Linked DNA regions of Homo sapiens. The protein of the gene in region 4 purifies or fractionates together with the protein of the main gene of each other region. This does not show direct contact. Each region holds a gene or a part of one and is shown on either strand. Other genes may lie near its edges.

Evidence for each region.
Region 1: the proteins of SPTLC1 (region 4) and ALDH3A2 purify together in Homo sapiens (affinity purification with mass spectrometry; one large-scale study listed by BioGRID and IntAct). This does not show direct contact.
Region 2: the proteins of SPTLC1 (region 4) and RAB14 purify together in Homo sapiens (affinity purification with mass spectrometry; one large-scale study listed by BioGRID and IntAct). This does not show direct contact.
Region 3: the proteins of SPTLC1 (region 4) and CDK12 purify together in Homo sapiens (affinity purification with mass spectrometry; one large-scale study listed by BioGRID and IntAct). This does not show direct contact.
Region 5: the proteins of SPTLC1 (region 4) and COPG2 purify together in Homo sapiens (affinity purification with mass spectrometry; one large-scale study listed by BioGRID and IntAct). This does not show direct contact.
Region 6: the proteins of SPTLC1 (region 4) and NRBF2 purify together in Homo sapiens (affinity purification with mass spectrometry; one large-scale study listed by BioGRID and IntAct). This does not show direct contact.
Region 7: the proteins of SPTLC1 (region 4) and FAM76A purify together in Homo sapiens (affinity purification with mass spectrometry; one large-scale study listed by BioGRID and IntAct). This does not show direct contact.

The regions. Positions count from the first base shown.
Region 1 is NC_000017.11:19,651,751-19,655,250, forward strand, and holds part of ALDH3A2 (aldehyde dehydrogenase family 3 member A2), read left to right. Parts: coding exon 1-28; intron 29-796; coding exon 797-882; intron 883-3,500.
Region 2 is NC_000009.12:121,181,370-121,184,869, reverse strand, and holds part of RAB14 (ras-related protein Rab-14), read left to right. Parts: intron 1-1,471; coding exon 1,472-1,559; intron 1,560-1,909; coding exon 1,910-1,940; intron 1,941-3,296; coding exon 3,297-3,474; 3' UTR 3,475-3,500.
Region 3 is NC_000017.11:39,520,486-39,523,985, reverse strand, and holds part of CDK12 (cyclin-dependent kinase 12), read right to left. Parts: intron 1-3,500. UniProt on the Homo sapiens protein: Cyclin-dependent kinase that phosphorylates the C-terminal domain (CTD) of the large subunit of RNA polymerase II (POLR2A), thereby acting as a key regulator of transcription elongation.
Region 4 is NC_000009.12:92,105,414-92,108,913, reverse strand, and holds part of SPTLC1 (serine palmitoyltransferase 1), read left to right. Parts: intron 1-79; coding exon 80-174; intron 175-3,500. UniProt on the Homo sapiens protein: Component of the serine palmitoyltransferase multisubunit enzyme (SPT) that catalyzes the initial and rate-limiting step in sphingolipid biosynthesis by condensing L-serine and activated acyl-CoA (most commonly palmitoyl-CoA) to form long-chain bases.
Region 5 is NC_000007.14:130,508,744-130,511,748, reverse strand, and holds part of COPG2 (coatomer subunit gamma-2), read left to right. Parts: intron 1-3,005. UniProt on the Homo sapiens protein: The coatomer is a cytosolic protein complex that binds to dilysine motifs and reversibly associates with Golgi non-clathrin-coated vesicles, which further mediate biosynthetic protein transport from the ER, via the Golgi up to the trans Golgi network.
Region 6 is NC_000010.11:63,150,328-63,152,925, reverse strand, and holds part of NRBF2 (nuclear receptor-binding factor 2), read right to left. Parts: exon of another isoform or gene 2,570-2,598; intron 777-2,569; coding exon 736-776; intron 1-735. UniProt on the Homo sapiens protein: May modulate transcriptional activation by target nuclear receptors. Can act as transcriptional activator (in vitro). Involved in starvation-induced autophagy probably by its association with PI3K complex I (PI3KC3-C1).
Region 7 is NC_000001.11:27,728,961-27,732,460, forward strand, and holds part of FAM76A (protein FAM76A), read left to right. Parts: intron 1-1,271; coding exon of another isoform or gene 1,272-1,373; intron 1,374-3,500.

The DNA.
Region 1 (3,500 bases), on a different chromosome or scaffold from region 4:
CAGCCACTGATAGGAGCCATCGCTGCAGGTCTGGTGCCACCTTATGTCTATATACCTTTTTAGGGAGGCTTATTTTCTCATATTAATTGGAAATTAAGGATAGTGGCTAATTAAATACATTTACTTGGTGATTTGCCTTTGTTTACACCACCAGTGTACTGAGAATTCATACATACCATACATATTTTTAAATGGGCTGCTGAGGAGATTTGTGTGGCTATGTTTTGAAGCACCTGGGGAATGAACCTGTGGGAGTGTAAAGATGTGTGAGTCAGCAGGCCCAGGAGTTTGGAGTCAGGCATCCATGTTCTAATATGGTTTCAGTTGCTGGCTCTGGCTTCGGATGAACCATTTGATTCTGTCTGACCAGTTTCTTCATTCAAATAAAGACTATGAGAGTAATGCTAGCTTGGGTATATAGCAAATGCCAGGAGATTAATTTCTCACTTTGCAGGATCCAGATAGAGAGATGTATGTTGAAATGGCTCACTTGCCCAATAATTCCAGGGCAGAGAGGACAATCTAAGGGCAGAAGTGGGAGAAAAGCGATAGAAAGCTGGAGGAGTGGGAAAGGCTGCTGGAACCCATTGTCAGTGACCTGAAGATGAGGACAGCTAAGGAGTTAGCCTTAGAAGAGAAAGTGAGATGAGCTCTTATGCTAATTATGAGGATATGCAGCATTGAGAGCTGCAGAAATAATTGGGAGTACCTAGCCTGTTCTTCCCACTGAACATCATTTTGGTAGCTATTAAAGTTAAATATTAGATGATACTGTTCTACTTTTTACTTTATTTAGGAAATGCTGTGATTATAAAGCCTTCTGAACTGAGTGAAAATACAGCCAAGATCTTGGCAAAGCTTCTCCCTCAGTATTTAGACCAGGTAAGAATTTCTTGACTCATCTCCAACATATGTGTTTACTGTGGAAAACACACATTTTATTTTCTTGCTATTGCATGTTATTGCTGGCCGGGGACCCAATTGCAGTCTCTTTAAGCCTTCAACAGTTGGCTTAGCAAAAGAAGTTCGGTTCCAAAATACACGGAGTGTATTTTGTGTGGAGTCACCCAGCTCTTGGGGTTACACAATATATGTAGGCCCATGGCTTCATGCCAAACAGATTCTGTGTTTGTCTGGGATTTGGGGTTAATTTTTGAGCTAACATGATTTTAGGTGTTTTCATTTAATGGATTATTTAATGAGGGACTGGTACTGTGCTGGGTGCTGACATATTTCTGTTACTAACAATCTCTTTTGTTCTAACAAAATGTACTTTTCTGTGATTATATAAGAGTACTTTTTTTTTTTTTTTGAGATGGAATCTTGCTCTGTCACCCAGGCTGTAGTGCTGTGGTGTGATCTCGGCTCACTGCAACCTTTGCCTCCTGGGTGCAAGCGATTCTTCTGCCTCAGCCTCCCAAGTAGCTGGGATTACAGACGTGTGCCACCATGCCCAGCTAGTTTTTGTATTTTTGGTAGCGATGGGGTTTCACCGTGTTGGTCAGGCTGGTCTCGAGCTCCTGACCTCAGGTGATCCGCCCAGCTTGGCCTCCGAAAGTGCTGGGATTACAGGTGTGAGCCACCATGCCCATGTGTCTGGAATTGGTGGGTTCTCGGTCTCACTGACTTCAAGAATGAAGCCGCGGACCCTTGCAGTGAGTGTTACAGTTCTTAAAGATGGTGTGTCCGGAGTTTGTTTCTTCTGATGTTCGGACATGTTCGGAGTTTCTTCCTTCTGGTGGGTTCGTGGTCTTGCTGGCTTCAGGAGTGAAGCTGCAGACCTTCGTGGTGAGTGTTACAGCTCTTAAGGCGGCGCATCTGGAGTTGTTAGTTCCTCCTGTCTGGAGTTGTTCATTCCTCCCGGTGGGTTCGTGGTCTCGCTGGCCTCAGGAGTGAAGCTGCAGACCTTCGCAGTGAGTGTTACAGCTCATAACGGCAGTGCGGACCCAGAGTGAGCAGCAGCAGCAAGATTTATTGCAAAGACTGAAAGAACAAAGCTTCCACAGTGTCAAAGGGGACCCGAGCAGGTTGCCGCTGCTGGCTTGGGCAGCCTGCTTTTATTCCCTTATCTGGCCCCACCCGCATCCTGCTGATTGGTCCATTTTACAGAGAGCTGATTGGTCCGTTTTGACAGGGTGCTGATTGGTGCGTTTACAATCCCTGAGCTAGACACAGAATGCTGATTGGTGCATTTACAATCCTCTAGCTAGACATAAAAGTTCTCCAAGTCCCCACTAGATTAGCTAGACACAGAGCACTGATTGGTGCATTTACAAACCTTGAGCTAGACATAGAGTGCTGACTGGTGCTTTTACAATCCTCTAGCTAGACATAAAAGTTCTCCAAATCCCCACCAGATTAGCTAGATACAGAGTGCTGATTGGTGCATCCACAAACCCCAAGCTAGACACAGAGTGCTGATTGGTGCATATACAATCCTCCGGCTAGACATAAAAGTTCTCTAAGTCCCCACCCGACTCAGGAGCCCAGCTGGCTTTGCCTAGTGGATCCCACGCCGGGGCTGTGGGTGGAGCTGCCCATCAGTCCAGCGCTGCGCGCCTGCACCCCTCAGCCCTTGGGCGGTCGATGGGACTGGGCGCTGTGGAGCAGGGGGCGGCGCCCATCAGGGAGGCTCGGGCAGCATGGGAACCCACCAGGGGCGGGGTGGGGGCCTTGGGCATGGCGGGCTGCAGGTCCCGAGCCCTGCCCTGCGGGGAGGTGGCTGAGGCCCGGCGAGAATTCGAGTGTGGCGCTGGTGGGCTGGCATTGCTGGGGGACCCGGGGCACCCTCCTCAGCAGCTGGCCCAGGTGCTAAGCCCCTCATTGCCCAGGGCTGGCGGCGCCGGCCAGCTGCTCCGAGTGTGGGGCCCATTGAGCCTGCGCCCACCCAGAACTCGCTCTGGCTTGTGAGCGCCACGCGCAGCCCCGGTTCCTGCCTGCGCCTCTCCCTCCACACCTTCCCACAAGCAGAAGGAGCCGGCTCCAGCCTTGGCCAGCCCAGAGAGGGGCTCCCACAGTGCAGCTGTGGGCTGAAGGGCTCCTCAAGCGTGGCGAGAGTGGGTGCCAAGGCCAAGGAGGTGCTGAGAGCGAGCAAGGGTTGCCCGCACGCTCTCACCTCTCACCCAGCCTATAAGAGTACTTCTGCTTTCAAAAAAGACATGTCTGTGGCATGAAAACATGCCACACATACACAAAAAGTGCCCTCCTGAACTAGAGGGCAGATCCTCACACTGACTTAACATGCTGGCATTTAAGAATATCAAGAACTGAATAAAGAAAATGATCTGCCCAACTGCGGGTAGTTCATCTGTCTGAGTCAGAGGTTCTTATGCCTTCCTGGGGAGGAAGTTATGATGCCGCGAAGAAATTGGCACTGCTGAGTTCTACATGCAGTTGCTACAGGGAGGAGTCTTCATTTAGCTTTAAGCGAAATACAGCTTAAAAATATCTTACCTGTATTCTGTACATCAACTTGTGATGGATTGAGGCCAGTTCTGGTT
Region 2 (3,500 bases), about 29 Mb from region 4:
GTCATTGTGGCTTTACCAGACTTGATTTTTTATAAATTGATTTCCTTTTTAAGTATCATTATTTTATTCTTTTAAAATACTAATGGATAGTATATGAAAGTTTCTTCCCCTTCACAGTGGGCACTTTGTCCACACTGTTTAAAGAATGCTCACTTTTGTTGTACTACTTAACTGTCCTTGCATGAGGTTTACATTCAGATAAAAATGATTATTTGGTTTATGGACACACATTTTTGAAAGTGGAAGAGCCAGGAGCTGTAATTTTACATGAAAAAAAGTTAATGGCTGAAGTGCCTTTTAGTTGAAACCATCCATTCCTAAAGTGTTCATATCTAGATTACCATATCTGTTTGGAAGGGGGAAAAAGGGAAGGATTTTACCAGTTGGTGTCAAATAAGCTCATAAATGTACAAAGACAGTTTATCCATAACCCCCCTCCCCACCCCAGGTAAAGGCCAAAGCCCTTTGCTGTTTCCCAAGGGTACATATTTTTTTCTTACAACTTTGCAGAGCTGCCTTTAACTTTGGCCTAACTTCACTTGTATGAATGGTTCCAAGGTGGATATAGGTTGGTGGGTGATATTTTGCCTTGGATTTGAACTTACTGCATACGTGCCCCCAAACCCCTACTCCCAGCTGCCCCTTGTGTATACACATAGACATCTCTTATCAGTTACTGTTAACTATAAACTCAATCCTTTCTAGGGATAGTGTGGGGTAGGATAGTATTTGTCTCAAGATCTCAGTTTGGGTTTCTACCTGAGATCTAATGTCCTCCTACCACTGACTCACTGAGTGACCTTCAGCAAGTCCTTTTGCCTTATTTGAGCTTCAGTTTCCTTACTGATAGCCTAAAGGAGTTGAACCTAGTGGCTTTCAAACTTTTTGAGGATCTCAGAACTGTTTGAAAACCTGATGGAAGCCATGAATCTTCTCCTCTAGGGAATGCCCACAATTACAGTATTTACAGTATTTCAAGGTATTTACAGATCCCCTGGAGCTTGTCCATGAACCCTTAGTAATCTTACTCAGCTATATCGTAATCTTTGGACTAGACCAGGTGTCACCAAAGTATGTATGGCCTGTGGGCCACATTCAGCCCACAGCCTGTTTTTGACTGGCTTGTGAACTAAGGATGATTTTTAAATTTTTAAAGGGTTGTTAAAAACAACAACAAAAAAACCCAGCAACGAACATGTAACAGAGACCATATGAGGCCCACAAACCTGAAGAATATAGTATTTATTCTTTACAGAAAGTTTGTCAACCCCTGACCTAGATCATTGCTAAGGTCCTTTGTAGTAATGACTTCATGAATCTGTAGCCCTGTCTAGTGGATAATTGCTAGTACTTGGTTTTCTTTTTAGGCCCAGTCATTTTTTCTATCAAGATTTTTGGATTTCAGAATTTGCATGGTTGGTTTAAATTACTGCTTTTGTTACAAGGTGTCTTTCTTTTGATCACAAATTAGGTAATAATTCTCATAGGAAATAAAGCAGATTTGGAGGCACAGAGAGATGTTACATATGAAGAAGCCAAACAGTTTGCTGAAGAAAATGGTGAGTTTCTTTAAGACTTAATGGTCACAATTGGGAGAATTTTTAAGGAAAGGTGGGCTTGACAGTTTTGTTGGTTTTTTTTTGCATTTTTTTTTTAAATGCAGACTCAGAAATCTCAAGAATGAGGAAGTAACAATGTGTTTCTATTTCTGTGTGATTTATGTTGGAGCAGTACAGTTATTTAGTGACAAATATAAAGATGCTCTCCACCTCAAACTTACATACTTTTTCATAAAATACTATGGGAGGAGTACTAAAAACTGATGGGAAACTTTTTCAGATGTTACTAAAGAAGTGCACTTGTGAGTTAGTTTGAAGTGTCCTAATTATAGTCTGAATTTTATTTTTAGGCTTATTGTTCCTCGAAGCGAGTGCAAAAACGTAAGTGTGACCAAAATACAGATATTTCAATTATATTCAAGTTTCTCAAAGTAGAACCGTATATATGAAAAGTATATAATGTATATACACATATAAAGTACTATCTATAAATGTGTAATGCTTACTGCAGGAAGAACAGCAAACATCTCTTTGCTTCCTTTTTTACATTTCAAAATAATATGAATTTTTGTTACTTAAAAGATTGTACCTTGATTATGCCTGTTGGTAACCCAGGTTAATAAATGAAACTTTGTTTACATTTCAAAAGTGTTTGACTTTTCCCAAATGACAGTGTTTGACTTTTCACAAGTGAGGTTGAGTTTGGCATCTCAGACAAGCTTGGTCAATCTGTTCTTCCTGTAATACTTCTGATCACATTAAAAAGCATGATTTAAGGGAATAGTGTCTACTCAGAAGCATAGTGAACATTTTCTAATTGTTCTTCCATGTCTGCTATTGAACTGTGGTACACCCATCATTGTTCTTCATTTATTAGGCCAAAAATTTCTTGTGGTGAGGAGAGGCTAACCTGTTTTCGTTTAGTCTCAGCTGTGCTATTAGTCCAAAGAAAACTGAATGGAGGTGTTAACGTGGCTAAGCATGATTATGTCACCATTACCCGATTAAAAACAGCTCAGTTCATGCTTGGCTGAGCAGACCATATTATTCTTGGAATTTTTTTCAGCATGTTCAGAGAGATTTCATTTCTGTTTGGAGTATCCTCTCTGTTATCACAGAAATGACCTATCTGAATTGTCATGGTGTGTATTAACATACAGTATTTTAATGATTGCATATAACACATGTAGTTGTCCAAATAGGGTTTGTAGAAAGGGCTTTCAGTACACGTATGTATGTATGCTTTCCATAGAAAGTAGTTTTCCGGCCGGGTGTGGTGGCTCATACCTGTAATCCCAGCACTTTGGGAAGCCAAGGCAGGCGGATCACGAGGTCAGGAGATCGAGACCACCCTGGCCAACATGGTGAAACCCTGTCTTTACTAAAAATACAAAAATTAGCTGGGCGTGGTGGTGTGCTCCTGTAGTCCCAGCTACTCGGGAGGCTGAAGCAGGAGAATCGCTTGAACTTGGGAGGTGGAGGTTGCAGTGAGCTGAGATCGGGCCACTGCACTCCAGCCTGGTGACAGAGTGAGTCTCTGTCTCAAAAAAAAAAAAAAAAAAAAAAGGAAAATAGTTTTCCATGTTCTCTTAGCTCAGTGTTCTGGTAATCTCTTATTAGATGACAGTGGTTAAGTTGGAGACATCATGGCAGTTAACTAAAGATTAGCAAAAGGTCAGTGTCTTGTCTTTTGTAGAAAACTGTGGTTCTCCAATAAAGTTATCAATTGCCTCTTAGGGGAGAGAATGTAGAAGATGCCTTCCTTGAGGCTGCCAAGAAAATCTATCAGAACATTCAGGATGGAAGCTTGGATCTGAATGCTGCTGAGTCTGGTGTACAACACAAACCTTCAGCCCCGCAGGGAGGCCGGCTAACCAGTGAACCCCAACCCCAGAGAGAAGGCTGTGGCTGCTAGTGACCTCTTTGCTGTGGCCCCTCATT
Region 3 (3,500 bases), on a different chromosome or scaffold from region 4:
CAATGTATCAACATTCTAGTGTAATAAATGAATTTGGCTGGGCGCGGCAGCTCATGCCTGTAATCCCAGCACTTTGGGAGGTAGAGGCAGGCGGATCATGAGGTCAGGAGTTCGAGACTAGCCTGGCAACATGGTGAAACCTGGTCTCTGCTAAAAATACAAAAATTAGCCAAGTGTGGTGGTGTGTGCCTGTAATCCCAGCTACTAAGGAGGCTGAAGCAGGAGGATTGCTTGAACCTGGGAGGTGGAGGCTGCAGTGAGCCGAGATCACACCACTGCACTCCAGCCTGAGCAACAGAACAAGAGTCTGTCTCAAAAAAATAAATGAATTTGGACATTTCTTTGGAGCAATCAGATTTAGAATTACTACCTACTCATGAACTAACATCCTATCCATTTTTAAGACATGTAGTCTTTCTTAAGAAAATGACCTCCAAAATTTGACATTAAAGCTATAATACTGTCACTGACAAATTCAAAGATAAAATACTTTTTTTTTCTTTTTCTTTTGAGACAGAGTCTTGCTCTGTTGCCCAGGCTAGAGTGCAGTGGTGCAATCTCAGTTCACTGCAACCTCCGCCTCCCAGGTTCAAGTGATTCTCCTGCCTTAGTCTCCCTGAGTAGCTGGGACTACAGGTACACGCCACTACGCCTGGCTAATTTTTGTATTTTTTAGTAGAGACGGGGTTTCACTATGTTGGCCAAACTGGTCTCGAACTCATGACCTCAGGTGATCTGCCTGCCTCAGCCTCCCAAAGTGCTGGGATTACAGGCATGAGCCACCGTGCCAGGCCAGATAAAAGACTTTTTATGTGCTATAATGTGGGATATGAATCTCTGAAGCTCCAATACAATACAGAGGCATTCATAAGATTTTAATTAAATAGAGACATATTAAAAGATCATATTTCTTTTATGTTACTTTAATTTTTTGAGATGGAGTATCACTCTATGGTCTAGGCAGGAATGCACTGGCACAATCTCGGCTCACTGCAACCTCCACCTCCCGAGTTCAGGCGATTCTCCTCCCTCAGCCTCCTGAGTAGCCAGGACTACAAGCATACACCACCACACCTGGTTAATTTTTTGTATTTTTAGGAGAGACGGGGTTTTACCATGTTGGCCAGGCTCTCTTGAACTCCTGACCTCAGGTGATCCATCCACCTCGGCCTCCCAAAGTGCTGGGATTACAGGTGTGAGCGACCGCGCTCGACCGAAAGATCTTATTTCTTACATCAAAATTCAGTAATCTGGCTGGGTGCGGTAGCTCACGCCTATAATCACAGCACTTTGGGAGGACGAGGCAGGCGAATCACCTGAGGTCAGGAATTGGAGACAAGTCTGGTCAACATGGTGAAACCTCATCTCTACTAAAAATACAAAAATTAGCCAGCTGTGGTGCCGGGCTCCTGTAATCCAGCTACTCAGGAGGCTGAGGCACGGGAATCGCTTGAAGCCGGGAGGTGGAGGTTGCAGTGAGTTGAGATTGTGCCACTGCACTCCAGCCTGGGTGACAGAGTGAGAGACCCTGTCTCAGAAAAAAACAAAAACAACAAAAAAAACTGGCAGTGATGCAAACCATTTAAAACTGGGACTGTTGGCCGGGTTCAGTGGCTCACGCCTGTAATCCCAGCACTTTCGGAGGCCGAGGCAGGCAGATTACCTGAGGTCGGGACTTCAAGACCAGTCTCACCAATATGGTGAAACTCTGTTTCTACTAAAAATACAAAATTAGCCAGGCATGGGGGCGCATACCTGTAATCCCAGCTACTCGGGAGGCTGAGGCAGGAAACGCTTGTGGTGAGTCGAGATCACACCACTGCACTCCAGCCTGGGCAACAAGAGTGAAACTCTGTCTCAAAAAAAATAATAACAAAAAAAACCCCAAAAAACTGGGACTATCTCTGCAAGTGTGAGATATACATGGTCACCAGAGACATGCATGATTACAGCTGGAGGAATGGTTAAGAGCAAAAACCAGAGGGAGGCCAAGCATGTGTCTCCTGCCTGTAATCCCATGACTTTGGAAGGCTGAGGCGGGAGAATCACTTGAGCCCAGGAGTTTGAGACAGTCTGGACAACATTGTGAGACTCCATTTCTACAATTGGAAAAAAAAAAAAAAAGGCTGGGAGTGGTGGCTCATGCCTGTAATCCCAACACTTTGGGAGGCTGAGGCAGGCAGATCACCTGAAGTCAGGAGTTTGAGACCACCTTGGCCAACATGGTGAAACCCTGTCTCTACTAAAAATACAAAAAAATTAGTCGGGCGTGGTGGCCTGCGCCTATAATCCCAGCTACTCAGTAGGCTGGGACAGGAGAACTGCTTGAATCCAGGAGATGGAGGTTGCAGTGAGCCGAGATCACGCCACTGCACTCCAGCCTGGGCGACAGAGCGAGACTCCGTCTCGGAAAAAACAAAAAAGGCTGGGAGCAGTAGCTCACATCTGTAATCCCGGCACCTTGGGAGGCCAAGGCGGGCGGATCACCTGAGGCCAGGAGTTCAAGATCAGCCCGGCCAACGTGATGAAACCCTGTCTCTACTAAAAATACAAAAATTAGCCGGGCATGGTGGCGTAATTCCAGCTACTTGGGAGGCTGAGGCAGGAGAATTGCTTGAAACTGGGAGGCGGAGATTGCAGTGAGCCAATATCACACCACTGCACTCCAGCCTGGATGCGAAGAGTGAAACTCCGTCTCAAAACACACAAACAAACAAACAGGCCAGGCACGGTGGCTCACACCTGTGATCCCAGCACTTTGAGAGGCCAAGATGGGCAGGAGTTCAAGACCAGCCTGGCCAACATGGTGAAACCCCATCTCTACTAAAAATACAAAAAAATGGCCAGGCACTGTGGCTCATGCCTGTAATCCCAGCACTTTGGGAGGCCGAGGTGGGCAGATCACCTGAGGTCGGGAGTTCGAGACCAACCTGACCAACATGGAGAAACTCTGTCTCTACTAAAAACACAAAATTAGCTGGGCATGGTGGCACGTGCCTGTAATTTCAGCTTGGGAAGGCTGAGGCAGGTGAATCGCTTGAACCTGGGAAGCAGAGGTTGCGGCGAGCTGAGATTGCGCCATTGTACTCCAGCCTGGGGAACAAGAGCGAAACTCCATCTCAAAAAACAAAACAAAATGAAACAAAAATACAAAAAAATTAGCCGGGTGTGGTGGCAGGCACCTGTAATCCTAGCTACTTGCAAGGCTAAGGCAGGAGAATCGCTAGAACCCGGGAGGTGGAGGAGGCAGAGCAAGATTCCATCTCAAAACAACAACAACAACAACAACAACAAAAACACGCTGGACGCAGTGGCTTACGCCTGTAATCCCAGCACTTTCGGAGGCCAGGGTGGGTCACCTGAGGTCAGGAGTTCGAGACCAGCTGGGCCAGCAAGGTGTAACCCCGTCTCTACTAAAAATACAAAAATTAGCTGGGTGTGGTGGTGTGTGTCTGTAGTCCCAGCTACTCGGGAGGCTGAGGCAGGAGAATCGCTTGAAC
Region 4 (3,500 bases):
AGAAATACTGAAGTTGCAGAGACACTAATAATTGATAATATTAGCACTGCACTGTATTTTAATTCTTTTTCTCCTGTAGGAAAAAGAAGAACTGATTGAAGAGTGGCAACCAGAACCTCTTGTTCCTCCTGTCCCAAAAGACCATCCTGCTCTCAACTACAACATCGTTTCAGGGTAAATTGATTTTGCTACCTGAAGTACTTGTATTTGGCTTCTTGTAGTAACCTGCAGTCTATAGTGCTTTATATGTAGTAGTCCTTTTTTTATCTGAAACAAAACATTTTGAAGTTCCCAGGAGTAACAGCTTTAGCTCCTGATTTTAAAAAATTTATTCTAGGGATGATACAGGCATTTTTTAAAATCTCCAATTTAAGCATTAATGTTTGCCCTTTTTTCCAAGAATGCACACATGTTAATATTTCCAATGGTCGAACACTTAAAATGAAAAGCAACAGACTTCTGCTTTTTACCCATCTGGTTATTTTCTGATTTTAAATTTGTCGCACGTTACCCTCATAATTCTAGATACTGTATAGTATGCTTAACTACCATTTGTTGATTCATCAACTACAGACAACACCTGTTGATCCCCACAATATGAATTATGGAGCTTCCGCTCACTTATGCCTCTTTCCTCCTTGCTTCCAGTGTCTCATCTATTTTTTACTTTTCATTCTCTTGGCTATCTTTGCTATATTGTATGTATTTTCATTAATTAAGAAATACAGTAAGAATATAGAAAGTTATCAGATATAGATATAGATATCAGACACCTATATACCTACCACCCAGAATTAATTGGTGTTAACATTTTGCTATTTTTAATTCAAACTTACTTTTACAGGTAAATACAATATTACAAATGCATCTTAAGAAATTCCTTCACATCCATCACTTACTCTTGCCTCTCATACGGATAACTACTGTCTTGAAGTTGGTGATTGTGTTTTCTTTGCCTATATTTATAATTTTACCATATATGCCTGTTGCCATAAAAATACTTGGTTTATTTTAAAATGTGATACAAGATATTTTCCTGAGTAGTATTGTTCTGATTCTGATCTGATCAAACAGGAGCTTCTATTCTTTACTTCTGTAGATCTCTTCAGTCTTATAAAACTTTTATATATTCTGAAATCAAACCTACCAATCTTTTTTTTTTGAGACAGAGTCTCGCTCTGTCGCCCAGTCTGGAGTGTAGTGGCGCAATCTCGGCTCACTGCAAGCTTCGCCTCCCGGGTTCACGCCATTATCCTGCCTCAGCCTCCCGAGGAGCTGGGACTACAGGCGCATGCTGCCATGCCCGGCTAATTTTTTGTATTTTTAGTAGAGATGGAGTTTCACTGTGTTAGCCAGGATGGTCTCGATTTCCTGACTTTGTGATCCGCCGGCCTCGGCCTCCCAAAGTGCTGGGATTACAGGCGTGAGCCGCCGCACCTGGCCCAAATTTACCAATCTTTTATAGTTTGGTCTTTTGAAGTCTTAGGGAATCGTTTCCTACCCTAAAGATCTAATTTGATTGTTTTCCATATGATGGTCAGTTGTCTCAGCATTATTAGTTGAATAATCCAGTATTTACCTACTGCTTGGAAATTTCCCTTCTTTGGTAAGCCAGATTCCCTTCTAAAGGGTCTATTTCTGGCTTTTATTTTTATTCATTGGATATATTCGTATCTCCTTATACCAGAGACTCATTCATGTATACCACAGCTTTATAATAAACGTTGATTAGAATGTTTTTCTATCTCCGTGTTCTTCAAAATTGTCTAGACTATTCTTGACCCTTCTTCACTGTGAGTTTAGGTTTAGGTGATCATATTTAACCAAAAAAATGCATTTGGGTTTTTTATTAGAAGTGTGTTGAATTTATGGATTAATTTAGGAGGCTTGGTATCTTGCTGATACTTAATCTCACTACCCATTTACATGGTATATATTGCTTGCATACTTGGGTCTTTTGTTTTCTATAGTAAAGTTGCTGGAAGAGGAGGAGGGGAGGAAAGAGGAGGAGAGGAATGCACACATATGGGTGTAGGAGGCTCCCTTCTGAAGGGAGGCTGGAAGGAGAAAGATGTGGGGCTAGGATGTGTGGGGCATGGGTCAGAGGTCAGAGGCACTGAAACTGCAGCTGAATGAGAGCAGCCTCCTTTCTCATTAGGTGGAACCCCCAAAATGGGGGCAAGGTCAGTGGGAAGAGCCAGGGAAGAGTTAGGAATTATGGATATCAAATTTTACTCAATTCTTGGTGTGAGAGAAGGTGGAGGGACAGGCAAAATGAGGGGCCCAACAGCACGTGGGCCGAGTCAGAGTAAGACGAGGAGCTGGGATCCGTGAAGTGTAGGTGGCCAGGGGCAGGGAGTCTCAGCAGGTGTGGAGACAGCAGGGGCAGGCTGGGTGCCACTGCAGTTTGCCATGTCTTACTTTTTTTTTTTTTTTTTTTTGAGACGGAGTCTTGCTTTGTCACCAGGCTGGAGTGCAGTGGTGCGATCTCGGCTCACTGCAACCTCCACTTCCTGGGTTCAAGCCATTCTCCTGCCTCAGCCTCTCGAGTAGCTGAGACTACAGGCACAAGCCACCATGCCTGCCTAATTTTTGTATTTTCAGTAGAGACGGAGTTTCACCATGTTGGCCAGAATGATCTCAATCTCCTTTTTTTTAATTAAAAAGTAAACTTTAATGTCGAAAATGCAGACTTGGGGAGGGCAGAAAGATCACACACAAGGCTGTCACTTCACACTTGGAAGGTTGCACAGCAGCGGGCAGAGACGCTCCTCACTTCCCAGATGGTGAGGGGGCCGGGCAGAGGCGCTCCTCACTTCCCAGACGGTGCAGGGGCTGGGCAGAGGCGCTCCTCCCTTACAAACGGTGAGGGGGCCGGGCAGAGGTGCTCCTCACTTGCCAGACAGGGTGGCGGCTGGGCAGAAGTGCTCCTCACTTCCCAGATGGGACGGCGGCCAGGCAGAGGTGCTTCTCATTTCCCAGATGGTGAGGAGGCCGGGCAGAGGCACTCCTCACTTCGCAGACAGGACGGCGGCAAGGCAGAGGCGCTCCTCATTTCCCAGACGGTGAGGAGGCCGGGCAGAGGCACTCCTCACTTCGCAGACAGGACGGCGGCAAGGCAGAGGCGCTCCTTACTTCCCAGACAGGGCGGCGGCTGGGCAGAGGCACTCCTCACTTCCCGGGCTGTGAGGCGGCCAGGCAGAGGCACTCGTCACTTCCCAGAGAGGGTGGGGGCCTGGCAGAGGCGCTCCTCACTGCCCAGACGGTGCGGTGGCCAGGCAGAGGCGCTCCTCACTTCCCAGATGGTGGGGCGGCTGGGCAGAGGCGCTCCTCACTTCCCAGATGGTGGAGCAGCCGGGCAGAGGCGCTCCTCACTTCCCAGATGGTACAGGCAGAGATGCTCCTCAGGTCTCAATCTCTTGACCTCCTGATCCACCCGCCTGGGCCTCCCAAAGTGCTGGATTACAGGCGTGGGCCACCACGCCTGCCCTGCTGTCTCT
Region 5 (3,005 bases), on a different chromosome or scaffold from region 4:
CCATTCTAAATCTTTATTCCACACCTGCTCTGCCAGTAGGCCCTTCCTTATGTAATATTTTCTTTCCTTTGCTTCCAGTCTCTTATTTCATACTCTCTTATGACTTTTGGCCCAGCAATGCTGTCTTACCTTCCTGTTGATGTGTGTCATTCCTTAGTGACCAACTCCTTTTCATCTGAGGACAACTCTAATGTTGCTTTCCAGTACCATTCCTCCTTCCCTTTCTGAATTTGTCCTAGAGAAAAACTCCCTCCCACCATTTGTACAGCATTCCCACAGACTCAACACGATTTTCCAGGTAGGTGTGTATTGCTTATTTTGGCACTCACTGCCCAGCTTTCCTCGATGTCCTACACACTATGCTGCACCCATTGCTTCTCAGTTCAGTCCAGACCTGCATAGACTGCTGCAGTTAGCCTGTACAGATCCATCTCTTTTGCCTTCTTTCTAATCTTTTGCCCTAGTGACATACCCTTTTCTTTAATTATTATTCTAACAAAGCTTTCTGGAAATACCTCATAAGTGTCTCTTACTTTGTCATGGTCTCCCCCAGGTGGTTGAGACCTGGCAGCTCCCTCCCACCTTTCCCACTCTGCCCTTTGCCACACTGCATTTTCTGTACCCTGGCCCAACTCACATGTCCCTCTCCTGTCTTAGCTGCCAGCATCTATCTTTTCTCTAATTCGCTGGGTTCTTTTCATACAAATCTCCTTAGTGGTTGACTCTCATTTTCAGTGAATCCTCACAAGACAAGCTTAATTTCAGAGAACAGTTTTAATGCAGATCTTCAGGGCATTCTTTCCTGATTCTCTTTGGTATTTGCCTTGCTTTGTCTGTGTAACTCTCATATTTACATTATGGCAGTGCATTCAGTATTTTCTTGCCATGGAAAGGCCCCCGCATCTTGCCTCCTCGCCCCATTTCGTCATCCTCTCCAGCAGCTTCGACAGATTACTGCCTAGACTTCCTTAGATCCCTGTAACCTCTCATTGTATCAATCAAACCATTTAAGTAAAAAAATTCCCACTAAGGTTTCAGGAACATTATCTCTACTAACACCATTCCTATTTACTTCCTTAATCTCTTTCTCTGTATCAGGTCCTTATATGTAAGTGTCTTCTGTCTTTACCTCCACATAAAACTCAGCCCCTGTGCCCAGTCTGTGATCTGCCTTCATACCTGATGTTGTCTCTTTGTCCTCCTCATTTGCTGTAGCCTCTCTGCTTAATTGGAACCACACTGGGTTGCTATAATTAATGTCTCTCCTGACTCTTCATTCTAACTTGATCATGACCTTTTCCCCTACCATATTCTGTATCTCTTTCATGGTTTAAAAAAAATGCCTCACCTGACCTGTTCTGGCCTTGTGTTAACTTTCACTTCTTTCCCCTTCTCTCTGAAGAAAATCCTATCCTAATTAAACCACAGTCGTTCTTTTCTCAACCCCTAATGGCATTGAAATTGATTCTGCAGGCTTGATAGGTTCATTCTTTCCTATATGGGAAAACCCACTGCCATCGTCTGTTTTCAGCATATTCTGTTGAATCCATCTGCTCTCTGAATTCAGACCCATTCTTCATAGTCCCCACCAGTGGCTTAAATTAGGCACCTTATCTAGCTTATCTCTAACCTTTCAATCTCTTGACTGCCTCAGCTCACCAGAGCCTGTTGGAAAATCATTTGAAATACAAGGTATTTTACAATTTATTCCTAAACAAATTATCTTCTCAGCACCTAGGCATTAGCATGCCTCTTACTGTTTCCAGCTGCCCGGTGGACTTTCTGGCCTCTTTCCTTTTGCCTGTTTGTACATCTTCCTCTGCTTGCCAAAGCTCTTTTGCATCTTTTGAGAGCCAGTTAAACTATTATATCGTTTCACATTTTTTACAGTTTTCCCAGGCTATTTGTTAATCCCGCACCCTCACATGGCACTCTCTTAAAACTTAAAGGATCTATGGCATTGAGTTGTAAAGTCATAGATAGATCACACACACACACAGCCCACACACTTATTTAACTCCTAGACAGCTCCTAGAGACAGAGATCATGTCTCAGTCATCTTTTTATCCAAGTGTCTGGCACATAAGCTTATACCTTTACGTGTAATGTCAACATGTATTGACAGTCACTACATGTGTGGATGGATGAATGGATGGAATTTAAAGTCAAGACTGAGCAGATGAAAGTCTTATTACCCAATCTGTCGTATATGGTCTTCACATCTGAGCCTGTTCTTTCCTCTCCTTGCCTATCCCCCAAATAACTTTTTAACTCTCCCAATATCTAATATTTTTTGTACCTATAAGCTTTTTCCAGACCATAGACAAGATCCTAAATGCCTTTTCTTCATCCCTGCTTGCTAAATCCCCTCCTTCAAACATTTCAGAAAATACTGTCTTTACTTTTTATAAAGACTTCACTTTCCAAAAATGTACCCCCACCTCCATTTCTTATTACTTAACACCACTTGTGTGAAAACATACAACTGCCCACTTGCTTTTCCATTTAAGACACTGACTTTACCAATACTAGAAACTCATTACTGACCTACTCACTTTAGGCTGAAGGTTGACAGATAAAGCAAGTTCTCTCTGGTGATCTGTGGACCCGCCATCAGTCCACAATCTAAAGATAGTATTGAGATGCTGATGAGATTGGTCAATGTTAATCTGATGATCTGTATGCTTTTTACCACAGGTTTTTTTTTTGTTTTTTTTTTTGGTCAGGTCCTACAGCAGTGGTTCTCAAAATATTTATTTTTCAACATTTAGGCCCCTTTGATAGGCATGGCAAAAAGCCCCCAAAAGTACCTCTCTGCTGCTTTCTTCATACCAATAGAGAAACAGTCTGCCCATGTTATCATTTCTGTACTGCTGTAACCCACAGCGTGGAATAGACTTTACATTCATGCTTTGTGAGACTGCCTTCCTGACCCGCTTGTAGGCTGCTTTTGAGAACCACTACCCCAGACAACAGGGCATGTGTGTTTAACTGGAAAATGTGGA
Region 6 (2,598 bases), on a different chromosome or scaffold from region 4:
CTCAGGTGTTCAGTGATCCTCTCACCTCAACCTCCCAAGTAGCTAGAACTACAGGCATGTGCCACCACGCCCAGCTAATTTTTTAAGTTTTTGTAGAGATGGGGTCTCACTGTGTTGCCAAGGCTGGTCTCGAACTCCTGGGCTCAAGTGATCCCCCTGCCTTGGCCTCCCAAAGTGCTGGGATTACAGGCATGGGCCACCATGCCCAGTCTTATGAATAAATGTATCTTGAAACACTTGGCAGGGCCTCCCCAAACACAGAAGACAATTTAAAGCAATTGGTGAAACAAATTTAAAAGTGCCTGAACTGCTTAAGAATTCAAGCAAAGACAAGTGGGAGACTGGTCAGATTTAAATTATCTTTGACAAGCAAAGGGTGGTCCAACTAGTTTCCTCTTGGCCAGGCCTGTTTACTGACTGTAAGCTAATGATCAAATAAGAGCTAATGATTAGGAATGGTCCGAAGAGGGCTCTCTAAAAGGTACATCTGGCTGGCAATCTGAGATCTGTGAGTAACCACTAGAAAAAAAGAAGTTTCTGCATTCCATGTCTGGGGCATCGACTGCAGTTCATTTAGTTTTAATTTCCGTTGTGAAGTGCTCTTCCCTTGCCCATTTTATATATTTTTGACTATAGCATTTTGAGAGGGACACAATGCTTTGCTTTACACACAATTCAAGCCTCCACAAGAAAACCTTTCTAACCCTTGTCGCAAATATTGGGAATATGTCTCACCTGCTCTGACTGTGTCAGCTTCATGGCTTCAGAAAGATATGCTGTTAAGAGAAAAAATAGGCATGTTAATATGTGTCTTCATTTTGTAATTAACAGGTAAAAGGAAGAGTTTTAATAATCTTCATATGACAAAGAGAACTGGTCTGATAACTCTGATACAATTGGGGATTTTTTAAAAGAATTCTTAACTTCCCCCAAAAGGATGTCAGTGGCAATAAAATGAAAATATTCCCTACCCTATCTTGAAGGTTTTGTTATTTAAAACTCCTACAGATTTTATAATTCAGAAACTGAAGATGGTCTAATCAGAAAAATAGGTTTAGGAAAGATAAAAATCAAACAAGAACCTATCCAAACCCTATTACTCATCATACTCACAAAAATATCATGAGATTATCAATGACTTTTTATCCGTCTGAATACCTGGAATCTATCATTTTGGACTCCTATAGAATCACTTTTAATGAATTGTCTCTGAGTTAAACCATCAGCCTTATGGTTAAAAGCCCTAAGAACTTGTTGACATATTTACTGCGAGGAAGTTACTGAGGACAGTATAATGTCATTTATGAAGACCTTCAATAAACTTCTCTCTGATCTTAGATCCTCGGTGACTATTTGTTTGAATTTTAATAGCCAATGTAAAAATTATTATCTTTCCTCTTTAGGATGACTGCTAGAAAACTTAAGTCAAGTTCTTAAAAAAATATGCAAGAACTAATGGTACATTTTGTGAACTACACTACTAGTCCTTTCTCATTTTCTCTATGGATGTCCTTATCTATGTATCTTTAATTACATTCGATATTTTATTGTACATTCATCTGTAAGACATTTTATAACCTTTCGGGAACAAGGTTAGGTATAAATAAGTTCTCTATTATCAATGAATTGTCCATAATGAATCTCCATTTTTATCTTGCTTGTTATAAACATTTTTGGCATCTCTCATACCTACATTAAGTTCCTCTTTTGCCCTTTTGCAGATACTACGAGGCATTGCTTTCTGTCCAGTCTTAATCCAAATAATTTAATGCTTTGATGTCATAACTTAAGAGTTCTTGCCTGCTAGGTTCTACCACAGTCTTTAAGATACAATTATATCAGGGGTCCCAAACCCCCAGGCCGGTACTGGTCTATGTCTTGTTAGGAACTGGGCCACACAGACAGCAGGAAGTGAGCAGCAGGCAAGCCAGTGAAGTTTCATCTGTATTTACAGCCACTCCCCATTGCTTGCATTACCGCCTGAGTTCTGCCTCCCATCAGATCAGCAGCGGCATTAGCTTCTCATAGCACAAACCCTACTGCAAACTGCACAAGCAAGGGATCTAGGTTGCACTCTCCTTATGATAATCTAATACCTGATGATCTGTCGCTGTCTCCCATCACCCCTAGATGAGACTGTCTAGCTGCAGGAAAACAAGCTCAGGGCTCCCACTGATTCTACATTATGTTGAGTTGTATAATTATTTATTTCTATTATTACATTGTAAAATATAAAGTGTACAATAAATGTAATGTGCTTGAATCATCCAAAAACCATTTTCCTGACCCCAGGTCTATGGAAAATTGACTTCCACAAAACCAGTCCCTGGCAGCAAAAAGGTTGGGACTGCTGAATTAGATGCTCCCTTTCCAAGAAAAAGAAGAGTTGGAGCCAGGCGCAGTGGCTAGCACTTTGGGAGGCCAAACAGGAGGACTGCCTGAGCCCAGGAGTTCAAGACTAGACTGGGTAACATAGCGGGACCCTGTATCAATTTAAAAAGAATTTAAAAAAAAAAAAGGAAAGAAAAAACAGAGTTGGTTATACAGTCTTTGCTCCAGCTATGCTTACCATAATTACATCCTTCCCACAACCCTTGT
Region 7 (3,500 bases), on a different chromosome or scaffold from region 4:
CTCAAAAAAAAAAAAAAGTGTGAAATGCAGGTATGAGTGGTCAGACATCTTTAGGGGGCATTTCCATAGCAACAAAGTGATTTTTTTTTGGTACCAAGTTTGATTCTTGTGGAACTTCTGTGAGTGTAGGTGATCCTGCCTTGAGGAGAGTGGGATCTATTTGTTAATTCATCCATTAGACCTAGAAGCCTATTTTTAATTATTCATTTCAATTCTTAGAATATCTTCTCCAAGATTTTATCATGGATTTTTTTTTTTCTTTTATGAGACAGGGTCTCTCTCTGTCACCCAAGCTGGAGTGCAGTGAGATGATCTCAGCTCACTGCAACCTCCCCTCTCCGGGCTCAAATGATCCTCCCACCTCAGCCTCCCATATAGCTGGGACCAGGGGTGCACACCACCACACCCAGCTTTTTTTTTGTATCTTTAGTAGAGACAGGGGTCTTGCCATGTTGCCCAGGCTGGTCTAGAACTCTTGAGCTCAACCAGTCTGCCTGCCTCGGCCTCCCAAAGTGCTGGAATTACAGGCGTGACCGACCACACCCAGCCTATCATGGATGTTTTCAAACAAAAAAAAAAGGTTAAAAGAATTAGTGAACACCCATATGCCCTCTACTTAAATTCTATCATATACACTTTACTATATATTCACCTATCCATCTGTTCATCTCTCTCTCCATCACTATATCAATTCATTTTATTTCTGATGTATTTAAAGTTGCAGACATCAGTATACATGACCCTTAAACACTTCAGCATGCACAGCATTATTTAGAGTTAAATATTTGTTTGCAGCTCTTTTTGTGTGTGTGTGGCAAAATTGGCTTACACTAACATGCTTGAATCTTAAATGCATCAAGTTTTACAAACATAGACATCTGTGTAGCCCCAAACCCTATCAAAATACAGAATGTTACTGTCACCCCATAGAGTCCTCTCATGCCCCATCCTAGACAATCCCCACACCCTTGCTTCCTCCAGGCAACCCCTGTTCTACTTTTCATTTCCACCATAAATTAGTTTTGCCTATTCTGGGACTTCATGTTAGTGGAATCATACTCTAGAAGCTTTATATGTTAGCTCTTAAATTTAGGTCTATGGTCCATCTTGAGTTAATTCATATGTGGGGTGAGATAGGAACTATGACCCTTTATTTACACTATACATACAAATTAATTCAAGATGGATCATAGAGTTAGTTTTTCTTTTCTTTTTCTTTTCTTTTTTTTTTGTTGTTGTTGTTGAGACAGAGTTTCGCTCTTGTTGCCCAGGCTAGAGTGCAATGGCACGATCTCGGCTCACTGCAACCTCCACCTCCCAGGTTCAAGCGATTCTCCTGCCTCATCCTCCCGAGTAGCTGGGATTACAGGCATGTACCACCGCGCCCAACTAATTTTGTATTTTTAGTAGAGATGGGGTTTCTCCTTGTTAATCAGGCTGGTCTCAAACTCCGGACCTCCGGTGGTCTGCCTGCCTCGGCCTCCCAAAGTGCTGGGATTACAGGCATGAGCCACCGCGCCCAGCCTAGAGTTAGTTTTTCTTTGCATGTTTTTTAACATGTTAGGAACATATGTATATATTGACATCTACCCCATTCCTTCAGTAGTAAATCTAGGCGTAAATCAAAATGCTATTCTACATCACAGAATCATTGATGGTAATCCTCTTTCTAGAGATTTCTTTGAATGTCCTTCACTTATTTTACTGTCTTTTAAAAGTAACAGAAAATTGCCCTGAAAAATAATTTATAATTTAAATATTTTCTACTCTGAGGTTTTTCTTTTGTCTATTTTAACTTTATAGTCACTTTCACAGGAATTATATGGGAAAATGATCACAAAGCAGAGAATAGACTAGTTTTTTGTGTGTGTGTGTGACAGGGTCTCACTCTGTCACTCAGGCTGGAGTGCGGTGGCACAATTGTAGCCCACTGAAACCTTGAACTCCCAGGCTGAGCCTCCTAAAGTGCTGGGATTACAGGCATGAGCCACTGTGCCTGGCCTTAAGATTTTTATGTGATTTATTAGTTTTTAGCCCCAAAGTACTGTTTAAATTGTTCTTACACATAAGACATTCATTTTTACCTCCTCATGTGAAGAGTTAGACTTTTATTTGAAGATGATTTTTCCCCCGGGCAGCTTTATTAATTCACACATTTAGGTAATAGGACCTCTGGATCTTCACAAGGCAAAGGATGTTTTTATTTTTGTCAGTGCTTAACTCTTAGAGAAATCAGAATTTTTTTTTTTTTTTTTTTTTTTTCGAGACACAGTTTTGCTGTTGCCCAGGCTGGAGTGCAATGGCGCAATCTTGGCTCACTGCAACTTCCATCTCCCAGGTTCAAGCGATTCTTCTGCCTCAGCCCCCTGAGTAGCTGGGATTACAGGCACACACCACCACGCCTGGCTAATTTTTTTGAATTTTTAGTAAAGACATGGTTTCACCATGTTGGCCAGGCTGGTCTCAAACTCCTGACCTCAGGTGATCTGCCTGCCTTGGCCTCCCAAAGTGCTGGGATTACAGGCATGAGCTACCGTGCCCGGCCTAAATATTGACAAAATATTTGATCATAGTGTCTTTTTCCCCACCTCTGGTGTTTTCATATGCCTTTACTTATGAAGGAGAGCACAGAGTAAGGTTAGCAAAGATAGAATCTCTGAGTTTATATTCCAGACACACATACTTTATTTGTCACCTCAAATTTCCCAACTATTCATCCGAATTAAGGAGAATTTATTTTTTTTTCCTGCTAGTCCATTTTAGTATAATATTTTGAGGGTGTTTTCTGTATCTGATAATTTTATTTAGTGATACTTGGGGATGTCATAATCAGAAATAACTCACTCTCCATTTTAGCCAAAGCCTCACTTGTTTTTTTGAGACGGAGTTTTGCTTTTGTTGCCCAGGCTGGAGTGCAGTGGTGAGGTCTCGGCTTACTGCAACCTCCGCCTCCCGGGTTCAAGTGATTCTCTTGTCTCAGCCTCCCAAGTAGCTGAGATTACAGGCACGCGCCACCACGCCTGGCTAATTTTTGTATTTTTAGTAGAGATGGAGTTTCACCATGTTGGCTGGGCTGGTCTCGGACTCCTGACCTCAGGTGATCCACCTCCCTCAGCCTCCCAAAGTGCTGGGATTATAGGCGTGAGCCACCACGCCCAGCCACATAATAATTAAAAGAGTTATTAGAGGCTAGGTGTAGTGTCTCACATCTGTAATCCCATCAGTTTGGGAGGCCAAGGCAGATGGATCGCTTGAGGTCAGGAGTTTGAGACCAGCCTGGCCAACATGGCGAAACCTTGTCTCTATCAAAAATATAAAAATTAGTTGGGTGTGGTGGTGCGCGCCTATGATTCCAGCTACTTGGGAGGCTGAGGCATGAGAATCGCTTGAACTTGGGAGGCAGAGGTTATAGTGAGCAGATTGCACCACTGCACTCCAGCCTGGGGAACAGAGTGAGACTCTGTCTCAAAAATATTGAATAAAAATAAAAGAGTTATTAG